2 linked regions of the Homo sapiens genome follow. The protein of the gene in region 1 purifies or fractionates together with the protein of each later gene. This does not show direct contact. Each region holds a gene or a part of one and is shown on either strand. Other genes may lie near its edges.

Region 1 (3,011 bases):
TGTGACAATATATTTAGCCATAATATATACCTTTTCTGTGATTATAAGATTATTCATAGAATTCCACAGCATTTATTAAGAACTGTCACTTTATTGAGTCTTTCCCAAAAGTAGAGCTTTGTTGGATGATCCAAGAGGAACCATCTAACGCGGACTATGAGAAGGAACTAGTTGCTTTTCATAAAGATGCAAATAACAGCAAGATGCTGTTACAGTTGTTTTGAATTAGTCACACAACTTTGCATCTGGAAACACGGTTTAGAACTATGAAAATGCCCTCTACTCTTGATAGTTGATATTAGGATATTAATTTCTATTTGCTCTGAAACATGTTTTAAAAAACAGCAACTCTAAAGAAAGGAAGAGTTACAGAAGAGAGAAACAGGGATACACAGACAGAGTCAGAAACAGAGACAGAGATAAAGAGATCCAGCCAGCTGTACATAAGATTCCCTACATTACAATTACAGATACACTAATTAAGTTTTAGGAGTAATTAATCACATAAAACATTAATGCAAGAACTGAAGTTAATTTAGAAACATCTTATCTTTGTTTGTCCTAGAAAAGCATAGTTTCTCTTCAGATTTGTTTATGTTGTTGGAATTTTCTTCCTTTTAGAATAGACATTACTTTCCAAATCACCTTTAGAGATGCATGTCTTAATTTATTGTTCCCCAGTATTAGGATAAATGAATGACTTGAGGGGTAGATTAGAGCTATGGACTCACCAAAAATCACAGCTAATTCCGTCTCTGGCATAAAGTAGCTGGAGGTGGCAATGAGAAAGGACAAATAGTAGGCAATAAAGAGGAGAAGGAAGGAAATGACAGCTTTCAGGGCTCTCACATGGGCTTCTGTGCTGGGGTCTCTGCACCCTGTGGCACTGAGCTGCATTCGCCTGATATGTCTCCGCAGGGAGAGGATCAAGAGGAAAAAGGACATTAGGCACACACAAAAGGGGAGCAGCGTTGCCAGGTTGAGAAATAACTTGGTAGAAGCATGTTGAGTTTTATTTACTCTGCAACTCCAAGTTAAGTTTGTTTTCCTCTTTGCCTTCACACAAAACCTGAAATCAGCGTTCAAATTCTCAGTGGCTGGAAGGCTAATAAACACAGAGAGAACCACGCACCCCAGTAGAATCCAGGAAATCACCCTGTCAATTCTCCACTTCATCCAGAGGAAAAGTGGGTGAAAGAAATTACCTATCTTGAAGAAATAGTAAATGCTGAGGCAGGTTGCAAACCAGATACTTAAATGATTGGTTAGTGTCCAGAAGAAGTCAATGATTCTCATTTCTTTACCAGTGGCATAGACATCTGGATATAGCACCAATATAAAACAATCTAATAGTATTACGCACAATAGACAAATTCTGGATATGGCCAGACTTGTGAGGATTAAATCAATGGAGGCAATTTTCCTCTTCTTGACCCAGTCCATGCAGTTTACCAATCCAATGAATGCATTCCCTAAGATCCCCACTGAAAACTCTCCAACTGCTAAGAACAATAAAGTAGTCTGCACTTTATCTGCCATGTTTAAATATGCAATTAGTTTCTAGTTGACCTGATGGAGTTTGACATCCACACCTGCTTCTTAGATTTTGATGTAGTTTTCTTTACCTCTTTGTTGTAGTCTGTTTTGTGATGGAGACTGGAATGATAAATGAAGACTGGAGCTATCTTCATTAAATCCTAATTAGTCTTGACAAACAATGTGTTTGGCGATCCTTGGCCTGGCCACTGTATGCCCATTTACCTACTCAGCAGGTTGTAATTTTCCACATACGGTTAATTTAGGCTGAGCTACTGTTTACTAAGATGCAAATTGGGCCAATTCCCTTTCATGGTCCTGCATTGTCTTTCTGAGGCTAAGGTGTACGCATTTTGGATTCATTAATTTGTGATGTATGCTAGTAACCTCAATAGGGTTGCTAGATTTAGCGACTAAAAATTCAGGACACTCAGTTAAACTTGAATTACAGGTAAAAAAATCAATAATTTTTTAGTGTATGTCCCTGATTACTTAAGATCAGTGCTTTCAGGAAGTACTGAAGTTCAAATTAGATTGAGTGTTCCATTCTGGCAACCTGAACATCAAGAATTTGGTAGCAAGTATAAAACTGGTAAAATTGGAAAGTTCTTGAAGAATTTTTATTTTGCTGAATGTTAATATTGATAATTAGTAAAGAATCCAAAGTTTGGTTCCATAGTGAGAGTTATATATTTTCAGGAACTTTAAAAAGTTAACACTAAATGTAGGTTATTTGATTCCAAAGAAACTTTAGGTCATTATTTTGGCTGTTCAGATGAACAATTACATGGCATAGTGTCTCTTAATACAACACATTGTCTTACTGACTAAATGACTTTTAATGGTTATTTAGCAATGTTATATATAATAAGGTAGAGGACCTGTAATAAAAAAAGACTATTGATTACCTTAAATTTTTCATTTTCACTTAAAATGTTCTCAAGGAAACTTTGAGAGGTATTAGATATGTCCATTACCTTGTTTGTGGTGAAGATATCATGGGTGTTTGAAATTTTATACATTAAATATATGCGGTTCTTTTTATACCAATTATACTTTCATAAAGATTTCAAAAATTTAAAAAATGTTCTCAAGGGTAGTTGTATGCATGAGAGAGGAGATAGTAAAATTCTGTATTTCATTCTCTCCACTGTCCTCCATACAAATTGCATGAGTATCTAGATCCTCAACCCTTCTAGCAGGAGACTGAAGATTAAACTTTCCACATCTCTAGAGATGAATTTTTAGTTTGAAATAGCTTCTCTAATTTAGAGTTACTGAGAAGCGCTTTACTACATGGGGTTCCATAGAATAGTTCTTGGGTATTCACACCTTCCTGGGAATGCATGTCTTCTCTTATCCTTCCTTAAAGGACAAACCATCATTCCGGAGATGTAGCCTTAACTTTTGGACAATCTGTATGATTATGTAGCCATGTTCACAGGCAACTGGAACATCACCTATGATAGGACGAT
Region 2 (2,402 bases), on another chromosome or scaffold:
AGGAAAATCAGTCATGACTAAGTCCTTGTCTGCATCACGCTCCTGCCCCTCCACACACTGTCTGAGCGTGCACTTTTCTTTCGAAGGCTAATTTATGAGGCATTCTGCCTGAGTCAGGGCTATTGCTAAGTGGAAGGTTTGATGAACCTCCCAGTAGAAAATGCAAGGCCTGCAAAAATGCGAACAGCTCGATTTACTATGGCTTATAATCAAGGCAAACTATACAATAAGAGGTTGTATTTTCATCAGATCTGCAAAAGGTCAAAGCTTACAGCAAAAGACAAAAGGAAGAGGTATATATCTTAGAGACAAGCTCACAGCACCTTTAAGTGGGGAGATCTCATGGCCAACCGGTGACTCACCGTGTGTTGTTTTCCAGACGTGGGCAGATGGCAGCTCTGCTGACCCCACAACCCACCTACACGATCTTCAGCATTTCAGGATCACCGGAGCTTGTTTAAAGTCAGTCTACACTGCTGAATTTCCCATCATCCCCCTCGGGAGCAGCCCTGGGCAAATGGCTGCACTGACAGCTGTGACTCAGGCACTGGTTCCCAGAGATCTAGAACCCAGGCCAGCACCGAGGCCTAGACAGCTGTGACTCAGGTGCTGGTTCCCAGAGGTCTAGAACCCAGGCCAGTCACTCACCACTGATTTATGGAATGGACCATATACGTATTTATCAACCAAGTTCCCAAACTTAGGGTGCCCAATGTCCCTCACCTTGAAGTTAGCAAGAGAACCACAACTTTGCTTCTCTGTAGACAGATCTCCCAACTTTCCCATCTGTTCCTCACACACATTCATTTAAAAACAGCTGAGAGAGCTGGGTGTGGAACCTTATTACAAATACCTTCTGAGGACTCATGCCACCACCAGACCATGTTACCTCAAAGTCTCCTGCCTCCATTTCCCCATTTTATACACAGTTCATGCTTTTAAATACAGAACTCCCATGCCATTGGAAGCTGTTCCCAGAAAGCGTCGAGATTTTCATCCAGATGCCTCTGTCCCTCACCCGTCAGAACAGACCATCAGGTACCACCTTCTAACAGGGATGGCCTGAGTGAGGCCATATGAACCCCAGCGGGAGGAACCCCCTCCTCAATAGAGAAGTTGAGATCCCAGCAATGCTAATGCCAGCGGAATTCCCTAATGCCAGCGGAATTCCCTAATGCCAGCGGAATTCCCTAATGCCAGCGGAATTCCCTAATGCCAGCGGAATTCCCTAATGCCAGCGGAATTCCCTAATGCCAGCGGAATTCCCTAATGCCAGCGGAATTCCCTAATGCCAGCGGAATTCCCTAATGCCAGCGGGGGTCTGAAAGGTCTCAGCTGCTTAGGATTTCGTTGGTAAAAAAGAACAAAGTATAAGACTGAGTTACTAATTTGACACAAGATTTCTTGGAGAGATCCTGAGGGTGACCCTGTAGGGAAAAAAAGAAAACTTAAAAAACATCTATTTCTGGGAGATCCACCCATGAGTCAGGACATGGCTTCAGAGGGCGTCTTCTTGGCACATGTGGGACTACCAGGCTGTGACCCGTGCGGTACGCTATTACAGTTAAACCATGTGGGAGGGAAGAGGGGCTGCAGGCGTTGCCCTCTACCCAGAGGAATCCAGGTCCTGGCTCCAGGAAGGCTCAGGCGGCTCCTCATTCATCGTCCGGGACTTCCCGGAGCCCTTCGCTGTGGCGCGAATGCCCACTGATCTCCAGCAGGGCCTGGGCCTCAGGGTCCGCATCCAGGATGCTCTTGTTGCCCTTGGCCTTGAGAAGAGAAGAAAGGGTGGGTGTGTTCCATGATGGCCCAACAAGAGGCAGCAGCTTCCTGCTAGTTTTCCAGCCTTCTTGGGTGGAATCAGGCTCCGGTTCCCCCTAAGGCCCCTCCCACTCTGGGATTCAGTGGCTGGGTGGGTAGGAGGTATTACAGGAGGTTCAGGGGCCAACAGCAACTCAGGTGCAGAACCAGGGAAGCGGAAGGAACCCTAGACATTCCTCCTCTTGCAGGTGGGCAGAGAGAATGAAGGGCCACCTGGGCTCGCACTTGGGGAACCCCCCTTCCCAGGGCTGCTCTACTAAACCACCCACAAATCCCAGACAAGACTTCCAGCCATGCATCTCCTGGCATCCAAGCCAGCATCAGCTACCAGGATCAAATTTGGGATAAACTATCTGCAGACAGAAGAGTAAAGGGGTAATGGTAAGAAAATGCAGAAAGGCCCCCAGGCTCAAGGGGCCATCCTGGGATGCAGAGGACAGCTCCACTCACCAACTGCTCCTCTGAGGGGTCTCCAACCGCCCACACCTCCATCTTATCAAACTGGAAGTTCTCCTGAGCCGACAGCTGCGGGCTGTTGTACGTGGTGCACGTGGGCTTGGCTCTGCTGTGTCCTTTCCCAA

Evidence for each region. Proteins that work in one complex are often made in the same cells at the same time.
Region 2: the proteins of TAS2R7 (region 1) and MEAK7 purify together in Homo sapiens (affinity purification with mass spectrometry, with the first as the bait; one large-scale study listed by BioGRID). This does not show direct contact.

What each region holds. Positions count from the first base shown.
Region 1 is NC_000012.12:10,801,032-10,804,042, forward strand, and holds TAS2R7 (taste receptor type 2 member 7), read right to left. Parts: upstream 1,597-3,011; 5' UTR 1,540-1,596; coding exon 583-1,539; 3' UTR 501-582; downstream 1-500.
Region 2 is NC_000016.10:84,478,258-84,480,659, forward strand, and holds part of MEAK7 (MTOR-associated protein MEAK7), read right to left. Parts: coding exon 2,272-2,402; intron 1,770-2,271; coding exon 1,656-1,769; 3' UTR 1-1,655. UniProt on the Homo sapiens protein: Activates an alternative mTOR signaling through RPS6KB2 activation and EIF4EBP1 repression to regulate cell proliferation and migration. Recruits MTOR at the lysosome, essential for MTOR signaling at the lysosome.